2 linked regions of the Homo sapiens genome follow. The protein of the gene in region 1 purifies or fractionates together with the protein of each later gene. This does not show direct contact. Each region holds a gene or a part of one and is shown in the gene's direction. Other genes may lie near its edges.

The links. The genes of interacting proteins can lie anywhere in the genome.
Region 2: the proteins of CMTM8 (region 1) and ABCD1 purify together in Homo sapiens (affinity purification with mass spectrometry; one large-scale study listed by BioGRID and IntAct). This does not show direct contact.

The regions. Positions count from the first base shown.
Region 1 is NC_000003.12:32,240,489-32,246,036, forward strand, and holds part of CMTM8 (CKLF-like MARVEL transmembrane domain-containing protein 8), read left to right. Parts: intron 1-5,548.
Region 2 is NC_000023.11:153,733,855-153,738,355, forward strand, and holds part of ABCD1 (ATP-binding cassette sub-family D member 1), read left to right. Parts: intron 1-997; exon of another isoform or gene 998-2,257; coding exon 2,258-2,400; exon of another isoform or gene 2,401-2,490; coding exon 2,491-2,659; exon of another isoform or gene 2,660-2,757; coding exon of another isoform or gene 2,758-3,057; exon of another isoform or gene 3,058-3,302; coding exon 3,303-3,397; exon of another isoform or gene 3,398-4,501. UniProt on the Homo sapiens protein: ATP-dependent transporter of the ATP-binding cassette (ABC) family involved in the transport of very long chain fatty acid (VLCFA)-CoA from the cytosol to the peroxisome lumen.

The DNA.
Region 1 (5,548 bases):
ATGGGCCTTCTACCTTGGGGTGGATTTGGGCCAGGCATGAAGTATAACGCCTTTGGGTTTTTTTCTGATTTATTATCGATATGCTCTGTGTACTGCGCTTTTTCAGGAAATACAAAAGTGAAAGAAATGTAAGTGGCCCACAATCCCATTACTAGAAATAATCACTGTTGACATGTTAGCATGTATCCTTTTAGATTTCATTAAGCGTTTTGAAAAAGATGGGAAAACATGTAAGCAAAATCACCCTTATTACTACTATAGTTTTTATTTTTGACAGAGCTAATTATGCACCTTTTTTGTTTGTTTTGTTTTGTTTTGAGACAGGGTTTTGCTCTGTCTCCCAGGCTGAGGTGCGGTGGCACCATCATGGTTCACTGCCGCCTTGACCTCTTGGGCTCAAGCGATCTTCCCATCTCAGCCTCCCAAGTAGCTGAGACCACAGGCATGCACCAACACACTTGGATAATTTTTAATTTTTTTCTAGGGACGGGGTCTCTCTGTGTTGCCCAGGCTGCTCTGAAACTCCTAGGCTCAAGCAATCCTCCTGCCTTGGCCTCCTAAGGTGCTGGGATTGTAGGCATGAACCACTGTGCCCCACCTTATGCACATATTTTAAAGATTCGGTCCTACAGGCAGAAATATAAGTTTCTCCCAGTGTCTTCATCTCTTTGAGCTCTAAACAACGTGTTTATAATGCTGTTTATTGGTGTTCCCTCACCCACCCAGTCATAGACATTATCCATTGCCTTTCTACTCTGAAAGATGAGGCTTTAGCTGGGATGCCCTCTTCCCTGCCTCCAATTATACATACCCTCTTCCTGTCTCCCAATATAGGTCCAAACACTTCTGATGGTTCAACTTAGGAATTTTCAGCTTTACAGATGTTGTAAAAGCAGTATGCATTCAGTAGAAATCATACTTCGAATTTTGAATTTTGGTCTTTTCCCAGGCTAATGATATTCGGTAGATATTTTTTCATGATGCTGGTCAGCTCTCAGCCACCCATGCCATCACCAGCGCAAACCACCCATCCTCTCCAGCATGCTGTGCTGCTGGGTGATTCTGCCAGCTGTAGGCTAACCTAAGTGTTCTGAGCACGTTTAAGATAGGCTAGGCTTAGCTATGATGTTTGGTAGGCTAGGGGTATTAAATGCATTTTTGACTTCGGATACTTTCCACTTAGGATGGGTTTATCAGGATGTAACCTCATTGTTAAGTCAAGGGGCATCTGTATAGTCTTCAGGTGATTTGGGTTAGATCAGCAGCCAGTGTTGACCTATGACACTGTAAATACCACTTACAACTGACCCAGTGCGTAGACTATGAATGCTTTTCCTTTCCTGCCCAATTTCTTGTTTGCCCTGGTGTTAGTAATTCTCTTTTCTCATTTCATAATTTCTCCAGATATTTAGTCACTAATTTAACCCTAGTTGTTTAAGTCTCCTATCAAGAAGCTGAGAGACATCAGGTATTCTGTCAGAATCGTCTTCATGACTGGCCTCTCTGGGAGCCTCTGGCCTGGTGGCCTGCACACAGCTGGCCGACTGGGCTCTCCTGCACCATCACTCTGAAGATTCTCTTCCTTTCTTTCCTGGGTTGGATCCTCTGCTTCCCATGTCCAGTGTCCTCTGTCTTGCTTTGCTCCCACTGGGGGGACACACAGCCTCTTGTAGTTTTCTAAGAAAGCATGCATGTGGAAATGGAAATTTGCACCTTTCAGAATAGCTTGATTCTATACACAATTCCTAGTTCAACTAGGTAGAGAGTGTTAGACTGAAAATGTTTTTCTTCAGAATTTAAAATGTATTCTTTTATTGTCCTTTAGCTATTCTGATTTAATTTTGTTTTGTTTTGTTTGAGACAGTGTCTTACTCTGTCATCAGGCTGGAGTGTAGTGGTATGATCACAGTGCAACCTACCCCTCCTGGGCTCAAGTGATCCTCCCACCTCAGCCTCCCAAGCCAGCTGTGACCACAGGCATGGGCCACCATGCCTGGTGGATGATTTTTTTGTATTTTTTGTAGAGACAGGGTTTCGCCATGTTGCTCAGGCTGGTCTCGAACTCCTGAACTCAAGTGATCTGCCCACCTCGGCCTCCCAAAGTTCTGGGATTATAGGCATGGGCCACTGCACCTGGCTGTAAAAATTTTTATTTCAATTATTTATCTCCCTCTACCCCCTGACTTCTGGAAATGTGTTGAACCTTCTTTTTCCCAGAGATCTAAAATATCACAATGATGTGCCTTCATATGAGTGTGTTTTCTCCCAGTGTACTGGGCACCTGGTGTGTTCTCTCAAATAAGGAAAATTCACGTAAGTTTCAGGAGACTCCTCCCCATTTTTACAAAGGTATTTTAGTAAACAAAATACAATTTTTTTTTTTTTTTGAGACAGAGTCTGGTTCAGTTGCCCAGGCTGGAGTGCAGTGGGTCTCATAATGTCACTCAGGCTGGAATTGCAGTAGTGCAATCCCAGCTCACTGCAACCTCTGCCTCCTGGGTTCAGGCAATTCTGGTGCCTTAGCCTCCCAAGTAGCTGGGATTATAGGCGTGCACCACCAAGCCTACCTAATTTTTGTATTTTTCATAGAGACAGGGTTTCGCCATGTTGGCTGGGCTGGTCTCGAATTCCTGACCTCAAGTGATCCACCTGTCTCAGCCTCCCAAAGTGCTGGGATTACAGGTGTGAGCCACCTCACCTAACCAAAATAAAATGATAGCTCTCTTAAAAGTTTATAAAAATAAACATTTATACATTGTTGGTCAGGCGTGGTGGTTCACACCTGCAGTCCCAGCACTTTGGGAGGCTGAGGCCAGCAGATTGCCTGAGCCCAGGAGTTTGAGACCAGCCCAGCCAACATGGCGAAAACCCATCTCTACTGAAAATACAAAAATTAGCCCAGCATGGTGCTGGGCATCTGTAGTCTCAGCTACTCGGGAGGCTGAGGCAGAAGGATCATTTGACCCCAGGAGGTCGAGGTTGCAGTGAGCTGGGATTGCGCCACTGCATTCCAACCTGGGTAACATTGTGAGACCCTGTCTCAAAAAAAAAAAAAAAAAAAATCACATTCTTTTAAAAGTATAGGTTGGGAGTGTATCCTCGGACACATTTTTGGATAATTGTCTTCTCTTCTCAGCTGCAGTCCACTCAGACTGACTTTTACATTGTGAATTCAGGAAGGCAGTACAGCTCACTGTGGTTGAATGCATTTGACCTGTGTTCAGTTTCTGGTTCTGCTCTTCACCATGTACAGTGTGAGCCATTCTTTCAATTCGAAAGTATCTCATAGAGTTGTCAGGACCCAAACAACACAGCTGTGCATGAAATGCTTAGCAAAATACCCTGGATTACTCTTCAGTTATCTCCTTCTCTCATTGATGCCTCTCTTCAGCTTCCAGTTTTGCTGTTTTGCTTCCAGCCTTTTCCTTTGGTATATTTTAACTCCAGCAAATGCCAGACAGAGAATTAATGGTTTCTCTGCCAAGATATTATAGCAGCAGGGATGAGTATTCAAGCATCTTCCAGTTCATGGTAGACCAACTTTGAATTCACTCCTGATCAACATAGCTGCCCCCTGCGCCGCCCTGACAAGTACGTGAGGAGAGGGAGCTGTGGAAGGTCAGGTCCAGGGAGCTAGAAGGTTTGATAGTTTCTGGCTGCAGAACCACCTGCACTTGCCCTGCACACCAACCAAGATCTTACCTAAGGAGTTTTTTTGAGACAGAGTCTCACTGTGTCACCCAGGCTGGAGAGTGCAGTGGCACAATCATAGCTCACTGCAACCTGGAACTCCTGGGCTCGAACAGTCCTCCCGCCACAGTCTCCTGAGGAACTGGGATTACAGACATGCACTGCCAATTCTCAGCTAATTTTTTGTTTAGAAACGGGGGTCTCACTGTGTTGCCTAGGCTAGCCTTGAGCTCCTGGCCTCAAGCAGTTCTCCTCCTTAGGCCTCCAAAAACACTGGGATTGCAGGCATGAGCCGTTGCGGCCAGAAGATTTTTTGTTTAATTCGAATTTTCTCTTTCCATTTTCTCAGTTCTTTCTAAAACTCCTTTTATACTTTTTTCTTTGCATATATTTTCTCATGATTTTTTTCTAACTGATCTGTGATATGCTGTTTGCTTTTACTATGCCGTGAACATTTTTCAGGGTCTTGGACCTTTTGAATTATTACCGTTTTCTGTCGTAAAGAAGTACCATACCTGGTTTCCCCAGTTTTCTATTTTAAAACTAATGTGTTTCTAGGGTTTACTAGCATAACCAGTGCTGTAGCAATCTTTTTCTTTGTCTGTCTTTCCACATTTGTCCAGTGCTTTTCTTGAGGAAAAGTTCCTTGAGGTAGAATTGTTGGGCTAAAGGGTATATAAATCTAAGGGTTTTGTGACATAGTCTGAAGTTATCTTCCCCAAAGTTCTACTGGTTGAAACTGTCATCAGTAGTATGAGCCTTTTAAACTAAAAATACTTTAAAAAAATTCCAAATGTTAATGATCACCTTAAATAACGTACTGTGTTTTATTGATTATAATGGGTAGTTTTTGTTCATGTTTTAATATCTGAATCAGGATACTGCTTATAATTGATGGTTTCTTGGATGTCATGAAATATGGACCCATTGATTCTTTATCTGGGGATACAGGAGTGTGTCTGTTTCAAACCTTTGCAATCCCATTCCTGAGACTAAGATATACCTACCCCCAGAAAAATGCTACTTTCTGCCTTGTGAAAACAAAATACTGAGACAAAGAATTACTAAGAACCTGACTTCCTGCCTGAACCTGGGGAAATGAAATTAGGCAGAGAACAAAGCAGTGTTTTTTCAAATCACTTGTCAAAATCGCTTGCTCTGGTTTTGGGGGTGAGTGGTAGTAGCTGTACCTATTAAAACACTCAAGGCTGTGCCAATGTAACATCATGTGGAAACCAAATCATGGTAGTTTCCTTCCTTTTAAAGTTTTATAACAAGCTAGAAGCAATCCAGTACTTGACCTGTGAATTGTAGGATGCTGTGATCTCATAACTATTACAAGTACTTGAAGAATGAAAGTGATTTGTAAGAATCTTAGTAAATTGTGCCCTTCCTGTTATTGATGACTTCGAAATGAATTATAGTATCCATGTAATAATGTTAGGTCACCTTTTATTTATTTACTGTCTTGAGCAAACTTAGTTGGGGAAGGATAAATAGGGTTTACTGAGAGTTGGAATTTTAATTATTCTGTTGCCCTGTTGAGTTCCTTTAAAAAATAGTGAACATAGTTTCCATTTCATAAAAGCAATACCCGACATTTGTAGAAAAAACTTTTATTTATTATTATTATTACTTTGAGATAGAGTCTTGTTCTGTCCCCCAGGCTGGAGTGCAGTGGCGTGATCTTAGCTCACTGCAACCTTAGCTCACTGCAACCTCTGACTCTCAGGTTCAAGCAATGCTCATGCCTCAGCCTCCTGAGTAACTGGGTTTACAGGTATGCACACCACTGTGCCTGGCCAATTTTTGTATTTTTAGTAGAGACAGGGTTTCACGAAGTTAGCTAGGCTGGCCT
Region 2 (4,501 bases), on another chromosome or scaffold:
AATCTAGTTCCCTGGTTTCCCGGGCCAGGCCCCTTTCCACCCTGCATGGCCCTGAGCGGATACTGCGTTCCGTGTCTTCCCCCAGCCCCCAGCCAATGATCCCTGAGGCTTCCCCCTCAGGATCACACCCACCCCTGGATACAGTCCTCGGGTCCTTCACAGGACATTCCCACCACTTCAGCCACACCCCAGCACCCTCAGAGGCGGCCTTCGCCCTTGCTCCCCACCTCTGCTCCTGTGGGGAATCTAAGGATCAAGAAACTGAGAGTCAAGGCCATTGATGAGGGTCAGGGGTGCTGCCACGGGGCCTAGAGTGTGACAGAAAAGCAAATTAAGACAGGAGCAGCTCCTGGGAGAAGCAGACACCAAACAATACGGCTGCTGGCCCAGAGGTCAAAAACCATGGCCTAGAGGGGGCGGTCAGGAAGTGGGACATTAGGCCGGGCGTGGTGGCCCATGCCTGCAATCCCAGCATCTTTGGAGGCCAAGGCAAGTGGATCACCTGAGTTCAGGAGTTTGAGACCAGCCTGGCCAACATGGTGAGACTTCGTCTCTACTAAAAATACAAAAAAAATTCGCTGGGCTTGGTGGCGGGTGCCTGTAATCCCAGCTACTCGGGAGGCTGAGGCACAAGAATCCCTTGAACCTGGGGAGGCAGAGGTTGCAGTGAGCCAAGATCACACCACTGCACTCCAGCCTGGGCAACAGAGCAAGACTCCATCTCAAAAAAAAGAAAAGAAAAAAAAAAGAAAGTTGGCGTTTCAAAGCCAAACAGCTCTGGGCGTTGGATGACAAAGTTCAGATGTGCCCCAGGAGGGGCGACATCAGTGGTGCAGGACAGAGGGCCGGTGGAAGGAGCTGGCTGTACGTAGAAACAAAACCAGATGCCTACTGGTGCATTTAAAAATCAACGTTATTGAGACGTAATTAACATACTATACAATTCTTCCTTTTCCATGTACAGTTTAAATTCATTCACAGAGTTGTGCAGCCATCATCACTAACTCCAGAATGTTTTATTTTTATTTTATCCCCCAAAGAAACCCCAGACCCATGAACAGTCACTCCTCATTCCCTCTCTCCAGCCCCTGGCACCCACTCATCTGCTTCCTGTCTCTGTGGATTTGCCTATCTGGACATGTCCTAGAAATGGAATCATGTGCTCTGTGGCATTTTGTGACTAGCTTCCTTCACTGAGCATCATGGTTTCAAGATTCGTCCATGTCATAAGATGAATCAGTCCTTCATTCCTTTTCATGGCTGAATAATATTCCATTGTGTGCATAGACCACAATTTCTTTATCCATTCATCCCTTGATGGACATTTTGGGTTTCTTCATGTTTTGGCTATTGTGAATAACACTGCTGTGAACATCCATGGACAAGTCTCTATGTGTGCAGATATTTTCGTTTCTCCTGGGTGTGTAGCTAGGAGTAGAATTGCCAGGTCACATGGTAACTGGACGTTTCACTTTTTGAGGAGCTGCGAGACTGTTCTCCACAGTGGCTGCCCCATTTTACCTTCCCGCCAGCAGTGTTGGAGGGTTCCACCTTTTCATCGTGGCTAGCACTGGTTATCATCTCCTTTGTATTCTAGCCACCTAGTGGGTGTGAGGCAGTATCTCTTGGTGGTTTTGATTTGCATTTCCCTGATGACTAATGACGCTGAGCCTCTTTTGATGTGTTGAGTGGCCATTTGTATGTCTTCTTTGGAGAAATGTCTGTTCACGTCCTTCGCCCATGTGTGATCGGGTTATCTCTGTCGCTGAGTTGTAAAAGCTCTTTGTATATTCTGGATACTGCACCCTCATCAGATGTGTGGTTCACCAGTCCAGAGTTTTCTCCCAGTCTGTAGGTTGTCTTTTTCACTGTCTCGATATTGTCCTTTGGTGCACAAAAGTGTTGAGTTGAATGAGGTTCAGTTGATCTGTTTTTCTCTTGTTGCTCATGCTTTTGGTGTCCTAGTGAAGGAACTATTGCCATATCCAAGGTCGTGAAGTTTTATCCCATTTTCTTCTGAGAGTTTCATACTTTGGGCCACACTACACATCAGCCTGTGATGTGCTCTGGGTTGGTTTGTCTGTATGGTGTGAGGGGTCCCTCTCCTGCACATAGAGAGAAAGAGAGAGAGAGCTGGTTGCCCCGGCACCATTTGCAGAAGAGCCTCGCCTTTCTCTCCAGCGGCTCATTTTTGACTTTCCGCTGTCTCTGCCCTGCCCCTCCCCGCCCCGCCACCCACCCCTCTGGGGCTTTGCAGATGCAGAGGCCGTGAAGAAGGCAGCCTTGGAAAAGAAGGAGGAGGAGCTGGTGAGCGAGCGCACAGAAGCCTTCACTATTGCCCGCAACCTCCTGACAGCGGCTGCAGATGCCATTGAGCGGATCATGTCGTCGTACAAGGAGGTACCCCTGGCCCAGCCCCACCCTTGCCATCCTTGCCATGCTTCTCTCCCTGCAACTGGCAGGGGCTGAGCCAGGGTCACCCTCCCTCAGGTGACGGAGCTGGCTGGCTACACAGCCCGGGTGCACGAGATGTTCCAGGTATTTGAAGATGTTCAGCGCTGTCACTTCAAGAGGCCCAGGGAGCTAGAGGACGCTCAGGCGGGGTCTGGGACCATAGGCCGGTCTGGTGTCCGTGTGGAGGGCCCCCTGAAGATCCGAGGTAAGGCTGTCCCCTCCCTATGAGTGACCCCGCCCCTGCTGCTGCTGCAGGTGCTGACCTGCTGCCCCAGCTCCTCCTATTCCCGCTCCCTCACTCAGGGACCTCCATGTGCTTCTGGCCCATCCCAGTCCACCCAGGACGGGAGGGCTGCCGGGCAGGGTCTTTGAGGACTTCGGCCTGGTCGAGCTGGGCCCCTGGAGGGTTTCCTGCAGAGAGGTGCTGGTCCGCCCGCCTTCCTTCCCAGACAGTAGCTGCCGGCCACCGTACTGACTCGCCCTTTGAGGGCCTCAGCCTGGATTATTCATTCAAAACAAGGGGGATGTGGTCCCCTCACCCATGCAGGACAGCAAGAGAAAGTTCCAGTCAGTGTGCCAGCTGCTGGCTGCCACGGGAGGCAGGTGCTGCAGAAGGGAGTGGCGGCCCAGGGCACTGTATTAGACACTGGGGGAAGAGTTCAGCTTGTTGGAAGACCTGGCTGTGTTCCCTAGGGACCCTGGACCACAGGCTGCTGGTCAGGAACCAGCTGGCATGCTGCCAGGGATGGGAATGAGGGCGTGCAGCCAGGGGCACGCAGACTCCCCAGAATGCAGAGGGGTCGCCACCACTCCCTCTCCACCCCAGCCCCGCTGTGCTGTCTCTGCAGGCCAGGTGGTGGATGTGGAACAGGGGATCATCTGCGAGAACATCCCCATCGTCACGCCCTCAGGAGAGGTGGTGGTGGCCAGCCTCAACATCAGGGTAGGTCCAGCGGGGAGGGCGCCAGCCACGCACATATGCAAGCCTCAGCCCTTGGCTTCCCGCCTGTCTGTGCTGGCAACAGCCATTGTCCCTAGATGTACGTGGCAGGTGGGCCAAGGTCAAGGTGAGAGACCAACGTGTCTCTGACTGTTCATCCTGGGGCAACAGAGGCAGGGCTCATAAAAGAGACTAGTGATACCAGGATTGACCAAGGTTCACCCCGGCGTTCCTGGCCCTATCATCTGATGCCAACTCCCCACACTCCTAAGAAAGCCAAGACCCGGGTGGGGGGGCTCTGGTTCAAACCTTGCCGCTCGACCTCCCTCGGAAGGCCACAGCAAGGAATCCACAGATCACCTGTGTCCCCAGCCAGGGGTTTGGACAGGGCTGGGGAGTAATGGAGTGAGGGGGAGACTGGGGTGGAGGGACAGGTAGAGAAGTGACAAGGAATCACTCATTCATTCACTCATTTAACCAATGTGCCCTGAACTCTGAGCCGGGCACCAGAAACCCGAGGTAAATCAGGAGACCTGCACTCAGGGAGTCTTCACTGTGGAGGGGCACTAAAGTGTTACAAAGGGTCTCCAGGTAGACAGCTGTTCAAGGGACAGTGGGGGTCACAAGAAGAGTGGTCAGAGTCCCTGGGGGTGGTGGGGGTGGGATGAAGCCTTGCCCAGGAGTTGCTGTGAGCGAGTGGGCAGGCAGCTGAGGGTAGAGGAGTGAGGGGCCGTGGGCCTGAGGGGCAGGTCACGCAGGAGGAAGCAGAGAGGAGGGGCATGCCAGGGAGGAGGGGGCCGGCACAGGTGGTTACCCCTCACCGCTCGCAGCGGCCCCTCCTAGGATGTCGGGGGAGCTGATCACCAGTGAGTCCAAGGAAGGTGGTTTCCAGGCTGGCCCCGGGCAGCACAAGCAGGCAGGGGCAGCGGGCAAGCTCATGGGGCCCCTGCGCGCAGGGCCACATATGCTCAGGGAGCCGGGTATGCGAGATGGGGCAAGGCCCAGGCCCCACCCTTCAGGAGGGGACAGTCAGGTGGCTTCATTAGCATCCTGTGGCTGCGGTCACAAAGCGTTACAAACTTTGAGTGGCTTTCCCAGCAGAGATGG